2 separate regions of the Homo sapiens genome follow, and region 2 is linked to region 1. A link means that fine-mapping ties the variant in region 1 to the expression of a gene that starts in the linked region. Tissue or cell type: cerebellum. Region 1 holds a variant in brackets; the other region holds the start of a gene. All regions are shown on one strand. Distances are between the middles of the regions.

The links. PIP is the estimated chance that this variant, and not a neighbour inherited with it, causes the effect.
Region 2: it holds the start of SSBP2, and the variant in region 1 is fine-mapped to the expression of SSBP2 in cerebellum (GTEx, PIP 0.97).

What each region holds. Positions count from the first base shown.
Region 1 is chr5:81,388,603-81,399,318 of GRCh38, reverse strand. ACOT12 (acyl-CoA thioesterase 12) reads left to right here and starts at 5,185. Exons shown (of 15, transcript NM_130767.3): 1 at 5,185-5,331. The coding sequence starts at 5,205. The variant G/T (reference allele first, on the strand shown) is at 5,185.
Region 2 is chr5:81,748,346-81,756,190 of GRCh38, reverse strand. SSBP2 (single stranded DNA binding protein 2) reads left to right here and starts at 5,094. Exons shown (of 17, transcript NM_001256732.3): 1 at 5,094-5,210. The coding sequence starts at 5,149. RefSeq lists a cis regulatory region at 1,300-1,385 and silencers at 4,193-4,542, 4,813-5,142, 5,313-5,362, 5,803-5,852, 6,073-6,232.

The DNA.
Region 1 (10,716 bases):
CTTTGGGAGGCCGAGGCGGGTGGATCACAATGTCAGGAGTTCGAGACCAGCCTGACCAACATGATGAAACCCCGTCTCTACTAAAAATACAAAAATTAGAATGGCATGGTGGCATGTGCCTGTAATCCCAGCTACTCAGGAGGCTGAGGCAGGAGAATCGCTTGAACCCAGGTGGCGGAGGTTGCAGTGAGCCGAGACTATGCCATTGCACTTCAGCCTGGCCAACAGAGCGAGACTCCATGTCAAAAAAAAAAAAGTTACTGGCCCCACCCCTGGAATTTCGGATTCAGTATGTATGGGTTGAGCTGGAAAATCTTGAGAACCACTCCCCTAAGGGGAAGTAGCTGAAAGCTGGCTTAGAAAGCAGGAAATGGTGTGGGCAGGAGAGATCTGGGGAAAGCCAGGGAGGCAGGAAGGGGCAGCTTTAAGAGCCAGCCAGAGAGGGGAGGGCTCTGCCAGATGGAAGAAAAAGCACCAGATCAGGCTCTAGCTCAATCTCAGTCTTTGGCAAATCACCTTTTCTGAGATAAAAAGGAGTAATTCTTTTAAAAACAAGCTACCACAGCTCACCCCATACGAAATAATTTGAGTACCCCTGTAACTGTTTCAAAAATCGAATTAATGGCCGGGTGTGGTGGCTCACACCTGTAATCCCAGCACTTTGGGAGGCTGAGGCGGGAGGATCATGAGGTCAGGCATTCGAGACCCACCCGGCAACATAGTGAAACCCCGTCTACTAAAAATACAAAAAATTAGCTGGGTGTGGTGGCGGACACCTGTAATCCCAACTACTCAGGAGGCTGAGGCAGGAGAATTGCTTGAACCTGGGAGGCAGAGGTTGCAGGGAACAGAGATCGTGCCATTGCACCCCAGCCTGTGCGCCACTGTGAGACTCCGTCTCAAAAAAAAAAAAAAAAAAAAAAAATTTTAAACTTCCAAAAAAAATCTTCAGGGCCCAGATAGTTTCACTGGAGAATTCTACCAAAAGTGTAAAGAACACCAAATATATACAGTCTTTTTCAGAATACATGGTGGGGGAACATTTCCCGATTCATTTTATGAACCCTGACACCAAAACCAGACAAAGACAGTTTTAAAGAAAGAAAACTGCAGACCAACATGTCCCAAAAATACAGACATAGAAATTCTTATTAAAATATTAGTAAATGGAAATCTGCAATATATAGAAAGAATTGTATACCATGAGCAAGTGGGATGCAGTATTTGAAAACAATGTGCTCCAACATATTCACAGGCAGTGGTGGTGACCGCAAAGGGACTCCACTGAGCAGTAATCAATGGCCTGGGATGAAAGTGGGGCCAAACAAATCTGGGGAAGCAGAAAAATTAGATTCTATACACATGGCTTTTGTTCAAACAAAATAAAGCTCTGTACTCCACACAAATGTGGTGGCTGTTAGGTTCTACACCTAATGCTTGACAGAAAGAAGGGGCCACCGGAAGTGCAGGGACAAACAGGAGCAAGGTTATCTTGAGGCTCCAGGTGCTAAGAGGGACAGTCCAAGCAGAAAACCCATTCCCCAAAGTCACTGCCATCCCTAGAGCAGGGTTCAGGGGCAGAGAAGGACAGGAGACCCTCCAGTCAAGAAGTTGGCGGCCAAAAGCTGAGAAAACCCATCCTGGAATTTTTGCTTAGGGGCTCTGAGTTTAAACTTTGAACCACATCCTTATAAATTTGTATTTGAATTTGGAAACACTGACCTGACACCTTTTAAAACATACCAAATGTAGAGAGAGAGTTTGATGGCTAATCAAGTTCATCTCTGTATGAAGTACTTGAACTAGCAAACCCTCTGTCTGGGACATATCTCCCACAATGGAAAGGCTCCCGGCTGCCTCTGCTGTTCAGGACAGTAAGGATTTTGGCTCTCTGCCTTGCCCACATGGCCACGGCACTCACCATTCTGAGTCCTAGTCCAAGCTGACAGCGTCTTCCTGTCCTACTGAGATAAAGCTCCAGCTGAAAGCTTGCTCTTGCTCTGAAATCTGCAGAAGTCCTGGGGAGTTCATCTCCTGGGACCAGCCCTTAGTCAATGAAGGATGCCAGTCAGAGGATAAAAACCCCAGGGTTCATGCCAGTGGGAGGGATGGCTGGGGCTGTTCTTCACAAACTGTAATGTGCCCCTGAATCACCTAGGAATCTTAATAAAATTTAGACTCTAATTCAGTAGGTCTGAGTTGGAGCCTGAAATTCTGCATTTATAATTTTTTCTTTTCTTTTCTTTTCGAGACAGGGTCTCACTGTGTCACTCAGACTGAAGTGCAGTGGCCCAATCATGGCTCACTGCAGCCTCGACCTCCTGGGCTCAAGCAATCCTCCCACCTCAGCCTCCCAAAGTAGCTGGGACCACAGGCATATGCTACCTTTCCTGGCTAATTTTTAAATTTTTTTTTTTTTTTTATAGAGACAAGGTCTCTCTATGTTACTCAGGCTGGTCTCAAACTCCTAGGATGAAGTGATCCTCCTGCCTCAGCATCCCAAAGTGCTGGGATTATAAGCATGAGCCAACACTCCCGGCCTGAGATTCTGCATTTCTAAGAGGATCCTAGGTGAGGCTGAGGCTGCTTACCTGGGGACTACACTTTGATGCCCCTACCAGTGCTTTCTGCAATTTCCTCCCAAATAAACTGTCTGCTCTCAAATTCTTGTCAGAGGCTCTGTTTCTGGAGAAAGCATTTTTTTTTCTACCTCTCTACTTATATTCCAGGTTCCTTGTTCTTAGTTTTCACAAAACCCAGCCACTACCTTACAATGTGACCCAAGGAAATCACTTCATTTCCTCATCTCTAGAATAAGAGTTTAGACTGTCCAGTTCCCCTTCCCACTCCAGCATTTTAAAGATTTTCTCGTTATTCTAGTGATTGTGGAACTTCCCACACTTTTTTGGATCAGCTTTCCTGCTCCTGTGTACAAACTTTTAAAATCAAGCTGGCTTCACATTCTGCTTATCTTCAAAAATGTCTCTAAACACAAATGAAACTCGACCTTTTATTCAAGCATAATAGTAAAAATCTTTGACACCAGAGAGAAATGGAGGTAACAAATGTTCATGCATGCAGATGACATTTTCATTGTAAAAGGAAGAAAGGGACCATTCAGAAAAACACAAGAATAGTAAAATGAAAATTAGTATGAAACCAACAAAAGATATGAAACCATAATCTGAAGACATCTAAACAGGAGATAATAAAGATAAGAAAACACAGCAGTGAATTTGTGTACCATGTCTGCTTTTAAAGCAACATCTCTAGACAAACACACAAATATACACATGCTGTCCCCTTCAAGAAAATCATTTTGGAAACCCATCCTCTTACACTTATGCGTAAACATTTTTGAAATTTCTTCTTCTTTTTCTTTTTTTTTTTTTTTTTTTTTGAGACTCAAGCTCACTGCAACCTCTGCCTTTTTGGCTCAAGTGATCCTCCTGCCTCAGCCTCCTGAGTAGCTGGGACCACAGGGACACACCACCACGCCCAACTAATTCTTGTATTTTTGGTAGAGAGAGGGTTTCACCATGTTGCTCAGGCTGGTCTTGAACTCCTGAGCTCAAGCAATTTACCTAACCTCAGCCTCCCAAAGTGCTGGGATTATAGGCATGAGCCACTGCGCCTGGCCTAAGTTTCTTTAGTTTATAAGAAACCAAGTATACAACCATACACATAATTCAATATCACCACTTTAGTCACCACTTTTTACCCAAAATAATACAACCCAGCCTAAATGCAAACTTTATTTCCAGTAATTTAATAAACTTCCCAAATATTAATACAGTTCACTCATGTAACTGTCAGCTATTGCTGCATAACAGACAACCCCCAAAATCACAGTGGCACACAACAATAAGTAGTTATGTCTCACTCAAGAGTCTTCATGTCTGCTGGGTTGCTCTGCTTCAGGCTGTGAGTCCTCCGGCTGGCTGAGATGCCTCTGCAATACGTGAATTCAGTCTGGTACCCAGATGCTAATAGGCAGCTACTTGACCTCATGGCAGAGGTCAGATGTTCCTGAGAACAGAAACACGGTGCTTCTAAAGGCAAGACTGGTGGTACACTGCTATCTCTCCACATTCCATTCTTAAGCAAGCCACATGGCCAAGTCCAAGGTCAATAAATGACTCTCACAGAGTTATTGGTAGATGGAGTGAATATATGATAATCTATCAATTCCTAAATTATGATTTCTCAATACAGAAGTCATTAAAAAGGCATTTTCCAAGGAGGAGTGCCAAAAGCGATGTAATAACGTTATCATTGAAATAAGTGTATAGCTACATAATGGGACCATCTTGGATGCACAAGTTTTTGTTTGCTTTTAAAAGTTATTTTAATGCCTTTTATATAAGTCAGACTTCATGCTTGCCTCAGTGAAAACATGCAATTCCTATTTATGATTGGATTGTCCTGAAACCTATACACAGAGGCTCCTAAAAGCTATCAAGTCAACATTTCCTTATTTCTTCACTTTCATTTTAAAAAAAATCTTTTAAAAAGGAAAGAAAAATACCAGAATCTCCATTCTGATGTCGCCATGCTGAGGCTTGGCAAGCCAAAAATATAAGGATGAAAAGGCACCACCAATTCGTGAGAGTCGGCTAGGCTTCTTCGTGCTATTCCGGACAGTCAGGAGCCCTGGGTTCCAGCCAGGTGATCGGGTCGCTTATCGGCTCCTATCACCTCAGCTGCTTGCTCCACTTCTCCGGGTTTCCAGTTCTCCATCGTAAATGTGCTCCCTGGAGCAGCCTCCCCTGACAGTCAGACATCCACCAATCCATTAGATGCTGGAGGTTTTCTGGAGACACTGTTTCCCTAATGAGGACTGCTTTGTACAGTCACTGATAGCAGCTCTAGAAAGTGTAACAGCTTTTTTATCTCAAAAGCTGTTCCTCGCGCTCCGGCTCTCGGGGAGCCGCCTTCCAGACCTGTCTACCCGGGAGCCCCCTCCCCGCGCACTTCCCAGACTTCTCCTGAGACCCGAGAGCGCTGGTTTTCCCCCACTCGCGATAGTCCTGGGATGACAGTGCGGGCCCCCTCACTCGCAGCTCCCACCACCTGGCGGCCAGGGGTTCGCGGCCCGGGCGGGCGGCGCCAGTGCCCTCTGGAGCTGGGCGGGGAGGGCGGGGCGGGCGGAGCGGGCATGGTGGGGTGTCGGGGGCCGCAGGC[G/T]TAGCGCTCTCGCCCTGGCCATGGAGCGGCCGGCGCCCGGCGAGGTGGTCATGAGCCAAGCCATCCAGCCGGCGCACGCCACTGCGCGCGGCGAGCTGAGCGCGGGGCAGCTGCTCAAGTGGATCGACACCACCGCCTGCCTGGCGGGTAGGCGGGCGCCGGGGCTGCGGGGAGGCGCGGGACCGGGGCTGCGGGAGCGGCGGCGGCTGGGGGCTGGGGGGGGTAGGAAGGCGAGGAAGGTACTTGCGGAGAGCTGAACCCTGCGCAGCCAGGGATAGGGGTGTTGCAACAGTGCGCCCGCGCTGGGCATGGCCGAGACCGGTGGTTCCCAAATGTGTGGCTCTCGGGACTCCTTCATTCCATTAAACAAGTGAGGAGCCCAGAGAGCTTCTGCGGGGTTTTTTGTTTGTTTGTTTGTTGTTGTTGTTGTTGAGCTCTCTCCCGGGCTGGAGAGCGGTGGCGCCATCAGAGGTCGCTGCAGCCTCGACCTCCTGAGCTAAAGCGATCCTCCCACCTCAGCCTCCAGAGTAACTAGGACCACAGACGCACGCCACCAGGCCCAGCTGACTTTGGGAGTTTTGTTTTGTTTTGCTTTTGTAGAGATGGGGTCTCACTATGTTGCCCAGGCTGGTCTCAAACGCCTGGACTCAAGTGATCCTGAAGTGTTGGGAGGCCCCAGCCTCCCAAAGTGTTGGGATTACAGGCATGAGCCACCGCACCCAGGCAGCTTTTGTTTATGTAGGCTATTTATATCACATTTACCGTAATGGAAATTTAAAATTTTTAATTATTTTTAAAAAAGAAATGGACTACATTGTTAGCATAACATTTTTAATTAAGAAATAACTATTTTCCACAAGAACAAAAGTGTAGCGAGAGGAGTGGTGATAAAGGTTACATCCTGGCGAGTCTCTCTAAGGTCTGGCTAGTGGAGGATTGCTGACTACTCATACCTGCTTCTGCATTCACCCTGCTGCTACCACACCCTTATGTAGTCTCTGGAAAACTCCACTGTGTTCTTGTGACAGAATGACAGTAAAAATGGCAAAAACATTTATTAAGGACTGAATTATATCCCCCACACCACCCACCGAAATTTATACACTGAAGTCCTAACCCCTGGTGTGACTCTATTTGGAGTGAAGAATTAAGGCTAATGAGGTCATAAGAGTGGAATCCTGGTCCCATACAATTAATGTCCTTATAAGAAGAGACACTGGAGAGCTTCTCTCTGCCATGTGAGGCCACAGCAGGAAGACAGCCATCCACAGGCCAGGAAGAGAGCCCTCACTAGGACCTACAATGGGCAAGCACCTCGATTTGGAACTTCCCTGCCTCCACAATTGTGAGAAATCAATGATTCGTTTAAGCCTTTTTTTTTTTTAACAGGATTTGAGATTGGTTATATTAACAATGGAAACATGAATACAAAATTAATCCACACATAGGAAAAAAGAATAATACATAAACCACTGAGGTTGCTAATAATAATGATGCCTGTTTCCAAGGCAACTGAATACATTATGAGACCACTGAAGTGACTTTTAGTTACCTTGCTTAGTGCCTCTGTCTTGTGATGGAGAAACAATGGCCCACCTGCAATTGTCATCATTTCTATGACCTGACATCTTTGGAAACCATGGAAAGATCCAATTGACAATCAATTACTCTATACCTTAATAGTTACATTACTATTAGTAGTATAATATTAATAACTGATAATGTTACTAATATTAAGAAAACCTGTATGATAAAGTTGGTTTGGGCAACATGAATAACGCCTGTGTTAAACACTTTATGGTGACCTGAGGCACCACATAAGCAGGGGACATTATTTAGCCAAGGTGTAACTGAATCTGTGTAGTAATATAAAACTGATTTCTCTGGGATTTTCTCAGAGTTTTTTATAGGCCAGCATTATCTCTTTAGCCACATTACTGCAATCCCAGTCATGGCCCCCAAGGCATTTCTATGACCCCTAGGCACTGCTGGATTCCAAAATGTCTTCTCAATATTTAAAGAAAGATGAAATATTCTCACTATCCTTACTTCTGTCAGTGGCCCCATTATTTTTCCAGTCCCTTAAGTCTAAAGTCTTGAAGCTATCTGAGTAATCCTCTATCTCACACGTCCATGTATTATTTTGGAACATCTCACACACACGGTTTTTTATTTGTGAATCTTTTCCAGGGTTTACTATCTCTGGAGTGGCACCCAACTCATCTAGTTGAGCAAGTCAAAAGTCTAGGAGTCATCCTTGATATTTCTCTCTCCACCTTACTTCTCACTTCACATACTCTATGCATGGAGCAAGTCCTATCAGTGTTACCCCCTAAAGGAGTCTCTGAAATCCAAGCACTTTGCTGCACCCCCATTGCGACCATCTACTCCAAGCTATCATCATGTTTCATGCAGACTTCAGCAGTGATTTCCAAACTCATCTCCATTCGTTCTGGTCTCCTCTCCACACTGCTTCTAAAGTAATCTTTGAAGATGCTAATCTGATTGATCATGTCATATGTTTTGTTCATTTTTCCCTTTCTTTTCTTCACCAAGGGCTTTAAGGATTTTTCTAAGATGTTCAAGTGCTTCCTACTAAAAAATCTCCCACAGATAATAATTATAAACTCTGGGCAAAACACTAAATAAAAGAGACTTAAGGCAGGTGAAAAGTGAACAAAAGTAGGCTTATAACACTTGAAAGTTAACACATGAAAGAACAAAGTGGTGTTGGCTTTTTCTGTGTTTGTTTTATAAATGACTTGAAGCCTGAAAGAAAATGCCAGTCTGCTCCCAGCTATAGTTCTGATGGAAAACCCACAGGCTTGCTGGTTTGAAGAGCCCAAAGACAGGGTTTGGGAAAAGCACAGCTACTGAATGAAATACAAAAGGGAAAGTTCCAGAAAGGAAAGAGCCAGAGAGACAGAGCCCTAAAATCTATCTATAATCTTTTCCCAGATATCTGGCAAATCTTGAATCATGTATACATAGGACAGACTCCAAACCTCCTGGTTGAGGCCAAAAGAACTGAAAATAGTTGTGCCCATCTCTAGGTAGACAGATTATAGTTTTGGTTTGGTCAGGTTAACTGCTTGCTTTAAAAAACAAAACCAAAAACAAAACCAACACTTTTCAGAGAAACACAGTTTCTACAATGGATCACTCACAATGGCTAGGATATTATCCAAAATTACTTGAAATACAGAGGGAAACATGATTTATTCTTAAGAGAAAAGATGATCAATGGAGATTCATCCCTAGACAACCCTGATGCTGGAATTAAGCTTCAAGGATTTTAAAGCAGCTAGTATAACTGTGCTCAATAATATAATTAAAAATATGATAATAAAGATTGCTGTAATCCCAGCACTTTGGGAGGCTGAGGCAGGTGGATCACTTGAGGTCAGGAGTTCAAGACCAGCCTGGTCAACATGATGAAACCCTGTCTACTAAAAATACAAAAATTAGCCGGGTGTTGTGGCAGGTGCTTTTAATCCCAGCTACACAGGAGGCTGAGGCAGGAGAATCACTTGAATCTGGGAGGTGGAGATTGCAGTGAGCCGAGATTGTACCACTGCACTCCAGCCAGTGCTGGAGTCTCATTTGAGAATGAGACTCCATCTCAAAAGAAAAAGAAAAAGAAGAAAAAGATTGAAAAGACAGTACATTTCTGCAGAGTAATAGAAACTATTTTTTAAAAGCCAAATGGTAATTCCAGAACTGAAAAATACAGTGTCTAAAATAACAAACTCAATGGCTAGGCTTAACAGCAGAATGGACATGGCTGAGAAAAGAGTTAGTAAATGCAAAAATACATCAATATAAATTATCCAATCTAAGAACAGAAAAAAATGAATTTTAAAAATAAAGTGTGGCCAGGTACAATGGCTCATGCCTATAATCCTAGCACTTTGGGAGGCTCAGGTAGGAGGATGGTTTGAGCCCAGGAACTTGAGACCAGCCTGGGCAACATAGAGAGATCCTGTCTCTACCAAAAAAAGAAAATGTTAAAATTAGCCAGGCATGGTAGCATGTACCTGTAGTCCCAGCTACTCAGGAGGCTGAGGTGTGAGGATGACTTGAGCCTGGGAGGTCGAGGCTGCAGTGAGCCATGATTGCACCACTGTACTCCAGCCTGGGTAACAGAGCAAGACCCTGTCTCAAAAAAAAAAAAAAAAATACATAAATAAAATAAAGTGTCAGAGATTTGTGGAAAAATAAAACATAAACATAATTAGAGTTCCAAATATGGTGAAAGACATACAATTACAGATTCAAGGTCATAGAACATCAAGAAAAACTAATACAGGCTGGGCCTGGTGGCTCACACCTGTAATCCCAGTACTTTGGGAGGCTGAGGCAGGCAAATCACCTGAGGTCAGAAGTTCAAGACCAGCCTGGCCAACATGGTGAAATCCCATCTTTACTAAAAATACAAAAATTAGCTGGGCATGGTGGCGCACGCCTGTATTCCCAGCTACTCAGGAGGCTGAGCAGGAGAATCTCTTGAACCCAGGAGGCGGAGGTTGCAGTGAGCCAAGATTGTGCCACCACACTCCAGCCTGGATGACAGAGTGAGACTCTGTCTCCAATTTAAAAAAAGAAAGAAAGAAAAACTAATACAAAGAATACATCCAGGCATATCATAGTCAAACTATGATGAAGAGAAAATCTTGAATGCAGCCAGACTGAAACACCGTATATAGGAGAACAACAATTAGAATTACCACTGACCTCATCAGAAACAGTGGAGACCAGAAGGCAGTGCAACAATATCTTGAAGAATAATAATTACAAAAACTTTGAACCAAGAGCTTCAAGGCCCTGTGCATAGCCTGTCCTCAGCCTTCACTCCAGCCTCATCTCACCCACTCTCCCTCCTACTCTCTGCATTGCAGTCACCAGGACCTTTGTAGTCACTGTTCCCTCTGCTCAGCAGGCCTTCCCCTCCTCTGCCCTCCAGCCTTCCTGGATACCCCACCTAGTGTATTATCTCAGTTACTGACTGTCATAAAATCCCTGTTTTCTTCAGAGCACTTAGTCCATTTTGTCATTATGTATCTGTATTAGTCCATTTTCATGCTGCTGATAAAGACATATCTGAGACTGGGTAATTTATAAAGAAAAAGAGATTTAACGGACTCACAGTTCCATGTGGGTGGGGAAGCCTCACAATCATGGTGGAAGGTGGAAGGCACTTCTTATATGGCGGTGGCAGGAGAGAAAATGAGAACCAAGCACAAGGGGTTTCCCCTTATAAAACCATCACATCTCGTGAGGCTTATTCACTATTATGAGAATAGCACAGGAAAGACCTGCCCCCATGATTCAATTATCTCCCACCGGTTCCTTCCCACAACATGTGGGAATTATGGGAGCTACAACTCAAGATGAGGTTTGGGTGGGGACACAGCCAAACCATATCAATATCCATTTAATTAACCTCTAGCTCATCCACTAGACTCCATGAGAGCAGGGGTCCTGGCTGTTTCCCATTGCCAGCACCTTACGCAGAGGCTGCCTTATATAAAA
Region 2 (7,845 bases), 360 kb before region 1:
AGATTTAGGAATGCACTAAAAAAAATAGTAATACTTTTGAATAAAGAACACTCTTTGGCACACTTCCTATTACATAACTCTCAACATTTAATGACAAAAATCCAGCCAGTGAACATGACAACACTTGGAATTTGTTTTGCAAAATGCTACATACAGTATATGAAATTGCCATACATGGTAGCCCTGGTTTTTCATTTTTCATCTTCAGCTTATATATAATTCTTTGTATAAGGATAATTTTATTTTATTCCAAGTCACTAAACTTTACATTCTTGGTAGTGCTAAAAAAGACTAGACCCTCTAGGGCTGGAACTCTTTGGAACTGGCAGATCTGCACACCATGTCTCCTAACATATTGGTAAGTGTTTATGAATATGTAAATTGGGATTTAAAAAATCCAGGGCAATAGGTTATGGAAACAGTCATTGCCTCAGATTAGCTGATGTTAAACCAATAATAGTGTGTCAAAAAATGTTAATTTGAGGCCCAATTTCATTTATTATTCTGGTGTAAGTGACTAAATTGCACAGTAGCATAGTTGCAATGACTATTCATTTCATTACTTTGGTACATGGCATTTGAGCATTTTGTGAATCTGAGCATGCTGGTCTCTTCTGCCTGGGAGTGAAGTTTCACAAGGTAATCTGAATGACAAACATCTCAGAGCTTGCTCACATTCCTTGGTGGAATAGTCACTTCTGAGAGAAAGAGGTGTGGCTTCGTGGTCTGGGAAAAGGACTGCCAGCCAGGAACATGGAGTTCTTCTTCTGGAACTAGTTCTGTTTTCTTTTTGGATCAGCTAATGCTAACGAATATATCTAGAACTCAGTTCACCCAGTTTAAAAAGCTGGTTAGGGAAATCTAATTAACTGGGATGTATTGAGTAATAATGAATGAATATCTGTTAAACGATTTGAAATGAAAAGTGGTATGAATGCAACTGAGTTATTTGTATAAACTGATTAGTTTTATGAAACAAATAAATAATAGAACAGTTTTATTTTTGGGGAATATTACTCTAAAACAAGAAAATTTATTTTAATGTTTAGTTTATTTTTCTAAATATTTTTATTTCTAAGTGGTTTTAAGTTAATAAGCTAAATGTTCTGTATGATGCACATAATTAAATTCATGATTAGCTTCCATTTAAACATAAAGAGGTGGTCTCTTTGTTGTATATAACAGGTAAATCTTTTCTGAGGTCTCATGCACTGTAAGAATGTAGACATTATTAACCTTAATGTTCTACAGAAAAAAAAGTTAGGATCAAAGAAATGTATAGTCAATCTAGAGCTTGAGCAGGGTGGCATAATGAACTGCCTGTTTTAAAGTGATAAAGACTTCCAAGAATTAGATGTAGGTTCCAGAAAGAGAAAATTGTGCACACGTGTCCAAACGAAATGGGGGTACAGATGAGGGAGACCTAATGATTGAGTTATTGTGATGTTCTATATCTGAAAGAGTAAAGTTTTTTTAAAAAATCAACCTCAATTCCAAATGTTCCATTCTGGTGACATTGCTGGTCAGGGTTCCCCTATGCCAAATCCAGGCTCCCCAAATTCATCAATCTCATATGTGGGTTAAAAAAAAAACTCTAAAAATACATTGTGATTCTCTACACTAGGAAGCTTTAAATCTCCAATCTTTTCCCTTTTTAAAAAATGAAAACAAAACAATGGATCTTCATTTTTGTGTCTGGGATCTCAAATTTGGCTCTGAATATGTGTTTCAAATCTCATTAATTACAATATTGGTCCCAGGAGATACAGTTGCTGATGCAAAGAACACTCTTTGTACTCAACATAATTTGAACAAGGGCAAAGAAGCATTTTATTTACATGTGAAAACATTTAGAGGAAAATAAAACAGAGATGGTTCAGGTAGCTGCTGAGCTGTTTTAATGATAATTGATTTGATTACTTAAGCTTTAAGGTTACTATATACAGGATACATATACATATAAAAGTCATGTTTTCACTTTGTATATTTGTCAGATGAGAACATTCTTATAAAGGTAACTCTGACATTAACTTCGCAAGTTCTGAACTAAGACCTTTTAGCATTTTATTCTTTCCAAAGACTAAGACCAAATTGTTCTAAATTCCATACCCCACTGTGCAGATCTATAATTTATTTATTTTTTAAACATCAGAAAATATGCCATTACCCATAGGACTTCCAAATGTAACAAATCTGGGTAAAAACCAATCAAATGAATAAATTATAGCAGTAGACAGCAAACAGTTTCTCCTGTTCTCTTTCTTCATTTTCCTTTCTCTATAGGAAATAGCAAATTAAACCATGGCTATTCATGATCTTGTACTATGAGAACACATATGGGCATACATTTTTGTCCTATTAACAAGTTTGTTGGCTTGGTGGCAGAAAGTAAAGTACACTGTAAAGACATCTTAATGCTTTGAGTAGGGTCATTTGTTAATGGACAGCCCAACCTAAAAGTCTTGTACTAATCTCTTATGGTACCCATTGGCTGTCTTTAAATGGATACTGAAGAGCAAAGGCAGGCAGCCCTGGTTATACACAAGAACCACGTGGAGCTTATGAAAAAAATGCAGGTACCTGGGTCCATCCCCAAGGTTTCTGATCCAGTTAGTATATAAACAAACAAACAAAACCCAACAACAATGAAAATAAAGGCAATTCTAACGTGCCATGATTGAGAACCATAGTTAAGAGAGTCCCAACACCAGTGCAAGGATAATACCTACTTTGTTTTTGGATAGTAGGACAAAGCCCACCCTTGGTTCGTTTTTCCAGGGGCAGGCAGGAGGGTGTCTGAGAAGCTGCCAGAGCTCTCTGAGAACTGACAGCATTCTCTGAGCAGCACCTTTATAGGGAGTATTCTATAAGAGATGGAGCCTTGATATACTAAAAATTTTCTGGGTTAAGGCCAATGGAAGTAGATAATTGAACAAAAAAATTACATAATGCTAACCTTGAAGTTGAGTCTGTAAACTGTGGCAACCTTATACACATTTGAGCATTTTGAGCAAAAGTTCATTAAGAGAGGCTGACTGGCTCAGCTTCGCTTCAATCACCCAATCATTGCAGGTCATTAGAAACAAAAAGAAGAATATGAATGCCATATCCTAACCACCCAATAACTGTAGGTCATTAGAAACTGACAGAAGAATTCTTAAGTCAGAAATGGCAAATTACATCTCTTGGAAATTAATCTACTTAAGCCAGTGTATTTTTTTCCCCCACTTTTCCCCCCTCATTTCCTTTATTGGCTTAATTTTTGTCCTTTTAATAAAAGTGCTTTTTTTCTTATATCTTTTTTTTAACGATAATGTCTGTCCTCTATTACTTTTAATCTTTTGCTATCACACTCTATGGCTTCTTCATTTAATCCTGTATCTTCTAGTCTTCTCATCTTTTTATACCTCACTTTCCTCATGTTTTTTTCCTTGTCATTAACACCAGTATAGAAAGTCCTTCCTCTTCATTTTCCCGTCTTTATGTCTGGTTGCCAACCGCGTTTTTGATTCTCGACCTCTCACTTTTGCTAACTGCCCTTCCTTAATCATCTGTTGATGTTTTATTCCTATCACTTCTGTCAATGCTCACACCCATTTCTTTCCTTTCCATCTATCTGTATATCTCCATATGCATTTTATGATCCTCCTACTAAATGCTTAAAGCTGTGTGTGTGTGGAATAGAACGGTACCTTCCTCCACGCGAATCCGATTTCCCTCTCCTCCCATAGCTACTTCTTGTCTATTCATCCTTTCCAGATGTCGCCCTGTCCCACCCCATCTGTCCCCTTCTTCCCCGTGTGAAGCCCATCTTCTTTCTAACCCCATTTGCACCCGTCTGATTTTACAGTCAAGGACTTCAATAAGATAAATGATGCAGAGTTCTACTGGGAACCAGATTGTGTGTGTTTCTGAAACTTTTGCGCGTTTACTGAAATGGGATTAGGGATTTGGATACAGAAACATTCTCGGGCAGCCTTTCAGCCCTGGCACAGCTTTGTACACCTTGGAGCGCGCTGGGGCCTATTCTAACGGGCAAGGACAGGGAAGTCTTTCAAGACCTTTTCTGGCCTTTTCCACTCCAGGGGTCAGGATGAATAGGCATCACTGACCCAAACTGTTAAACCAGGCCGGGTGGGGAAGCCTGGGGCCCTCTTCTGCGGCAGATCTGGCGGGGTGTCCAGGGCGCCGCGGGGCTCCGTGCAAGAAGGGGTTGGGGCAGGGGCCGCTGCGGCCGCAGGAGTCACCGGGCCTCCTCGGGAGGTCCGCTCACCTCTTACAGAGGAGGCCGACCCCAGGCCGGGTGCTCCCCTGGGGCGCAGGGCGCGGCCCCGGGCGCCGCCACCGCAGCGGCGCCGAGGGCCGGAGGTGCAGCCTTTCCCCAGGAGAGAAGGCGAGTCGCTGTCGGTCGCTCAGCCAGAAGGTCGAGGGAACCGCGCGGGTGTCCCTCGCCAGCCGGCCCTCTGGGAACAGGGCGGGGGCGACACCCCAGGGAGTAGGGCTGAGGACCGCAAAAATCAATCGTGGGTACCGGCGCGGGGTCACGCATAGGAGAGGAGCGGGAGAGGGGCTGGTGGGGGCCCCAGGGCGGCTGAGGCCGTGGCTCTGTCGTGGACTCGGCGGGCGCCCCGAAGTCTGGGGCCGCCACGGCTCCAGCTCCGCCGGCTCCGGCCGGAGACTCCAGGCCGCAGTTTCTCCTCCTCCCGGCGCCTTCTCTCCAGTGAGGAGCTGAGCGCGGGCGGCGCGGGGGGAGGGGTGGCGGCGGAGAGAACAGCCAGTTGTTTAAAATCCTTCTAGAGCAGTTTCTAATTCCCCCCTTGCGCCCGGGTTCGGAGGGGGGAGGGGGAAGGAGAGCGGGTGGAGGGAGGAGAGCGGAGAGGGAAGGCGGGAGGGAGGGAGTCGGGGAGGGAGGGAAGGAGGGAGGAGACTGCCGCTGAGGCTTAGCCGCCACCGCGCGCTTCGGAAGGCCAGAGGGAGGGGGAGGCCTGTCAGTCTCGCGCGTTGCCTGGGCGAAGGGGGCGGAGCTTTGGCGTGGGGCGGCCAATAGTGGGGGTGGCTGCGTGGGTCGCCATGGGGACGGGGCTGTTCCCGGGGAGGCTGTGATGGGTTGACAGGTGCGTGACAGTGGGAGCTGCTCTCGGCACAAGCATGTACGGCAAAGGCAAGAGTAACAGCAGCGCCGTCCCGTCCGACAGCCAGGCCCGGGAGAAGTAAGTGTCTCCGCTTCTCACCCACCTCCGCCTTCACACGCGCGCACACTCACGCACGCACTCGCACACTCTGGGAGACACAGACACTCTCCGCCCGGGGAGCGCCGGGGGTGGGCTGGCAGGGGGAGGGGTGCCGCGATGGGGGCGTGTGGTGCGGGGAGCTGCGCTTTCCCGGGAGGTGCGGGCGCTGGGCGGGCGGCCGCAGGGGGCTGTCGGCGGGAGGGACCGGGTGTGTTGAGGGGCGGCGGTGGTGCTGGTGGCGAGGATGGAAACTTGTTTGGGTGATTGAGGGAAATAACCCGCGGGTTCACCTTCCAAAGTAACTTTAGAGCTGGGGTCCGGGGCTCCGGGGACCTGGGGAGCCGCCGGGGGTGGCGGGAGGGGCAGCTGCGTGGAGGAAGGCGCGCAGTGGGAATGTGGGTGTTTGGCGGGCCGGCCGGGGTCGGGGCCGGGGTCGGGGCGGGCAGCGCGGGGAGCGCGGCGGCGGGGGCCTGGGCGCTGGGGCTTAGGGCCGCGAGCGCGGGGCGAGGCGAGGCGAGGGCGGCGGTGCCGGGCGCGCGGCGGGCGGAAGCCGGGCGTGGAGCGGCCGAGCGGGGCCCCGCGGGGCGCGGAGACGCGCGCGGGGCGCGGAGGGCGTGTGCGGGTTGGGCGTCCGGGCTTTCCTGGGCCAGCTACGGACGCGGCGCCCGCAGTCCCCCGCGCATCGCGGGGCTGGGGCTGGGGCTGGGGCGGGGGCGGGGGCGGGTGGGCGCCGGAGACGCCGCCGAAGTTTGGGAGTCGGAGAGGGACCGAGTTCCCGGGGAGCTAAAGTGTGTTGGCGAGGAGCGGGATCCGCTGGAGGAGGCTGGCGTTTCTGCCTCTCGCAGCGGACCCAACTCCGCGGCGGCGGCTGGCGAACTTTTTGTGAGGCTGGCAGCCCCCGAGCGGCGGGAGGGGCGGGCCCGGCGGGGCGGTGGTCGGGGGCGCGCGGAGGGGAGTTGTGGGAGCCGCCGGGGGCGCCCGAGGAGGGCAGCTGTGGCGGGGAGGGCCAGTGGTCCGAAAAGGGGTTTGTGGGAGGGGAGAAGCGTTCAGGTGGGAAGGAGCCGCTTGGTTACAGTTGTGGGGAGATACAGGTGTTAACTTCGGTGGGAGCCCAAGAGGCGGCTGGCGAGAACAGAGCCCCTCCCGGCCCGGGATGCCACTGTCACGGCACACTGCAAAGCAAAGCGGTTTGCTGCTATTCTTGTGTACTTGTAACGGTGATTTGGTTGTTACTAAAAATGAGAACGAATAGTGACTGTGATCACTGAGGAAGAACCCCCCCCTTTTTTTTTTAAACTGTGCAACAGATCAGTGATTCCCAGTAACCACTTAAACTCTGAGGGTCAGAGTTATCCTTGTCGTTGAACGCACCCTGTCTTTCTGAGGGGGTTCAGACCAGAGAAAAAGTCTGAGAGCATCTCTCAAAGGTACTTTGGTTACCTTGCGCACAGAAATAGCTGCGTAAATAAAAACCGAATGCGCAGGCGACTGAGTTTCCCTCCTTGGTTTAGGCAGTTAGTCTCCCCCTGAAAGTTTTGTGTGCCCTAGGGATGGGAACATTTCCTAATCTTTGTGTTGGCAGCAACACACTCAATTCCCATAGGATTTAGAGGTATCAGGCCTTGATGTAGCAAAGCAAAACAAAACAAAACAAAAATTAGAGAGGCTTTTTTGTTTTTTTGCAAGAGATATTTTCTGAGCTGCATTCAGGATCTTGTTGCTGTGACAAGTAGTATATAAAAGACATAGCGTTATAGCCTGGTTAAGAAACGGCAGTTACTAGAATTGAAGTTTTGAAATGCAGTCTCATTTGTGTGCATTAATCATTTTGTTATAATGTGCCTGATAAAAACATCTGAAGGAGGATGTTTTAATGATCACAGAATATTTGAATTTCACATTAGTCAGAGTGATTGAAATGTATTGAGGCATGATCTTATTTTGGGGGTGACTGAATTTGAGAATCAAAGTAATTTTAGATTTTAGGTGAACTTCCAGGAAGGGGTGAACTTTAGTTGAATCCCACTCAGTATCCTGAGGACTGCTTGATTTTTTTTTTTAGTTTCTCAGATAATAACAAGGATGTTGGAACTTGCATAACTGTGGTCCTTTCTAGCTCTAATTCTGTGATTTCCCACCAGGAAAACAAATAATTGCCACTTTGCTGTCAAATCTACCAAACTGAACACCAAGTAATATCTACTCTCGTGAGCAGATCAGGGTTCTGCTAGATGGTGCTATTTGATTTAAATATATTTCTTCCATTCATTTCAATTGGCAGCAGGAATTCTTGACTGGTTTGCCTTATGAACTTAAATATAGGTGAAGAGGCCGCTTTTGGAGAATTGACAATGACTGTTCTGGGTTAATTGTCGTTGCATTAATTTCTAGGTTAATGTTGTTTGAATCTAAGACAAACATCGACGTAGGTTCTGTCTTATAGAATAAACTTAATTTCATCTTGGTGGGAGAGTTGATCTAATCTCTCGGTTTTTCTCTTTATGTTTACTTGGGACTTTAATGGCACTATTCTGCAACAATGTACTAACATCTGAAGGTAGGAATCTTGAAGTCATCATTAAAATGGATGTCACCAGATTTTTGTTCTTAATTT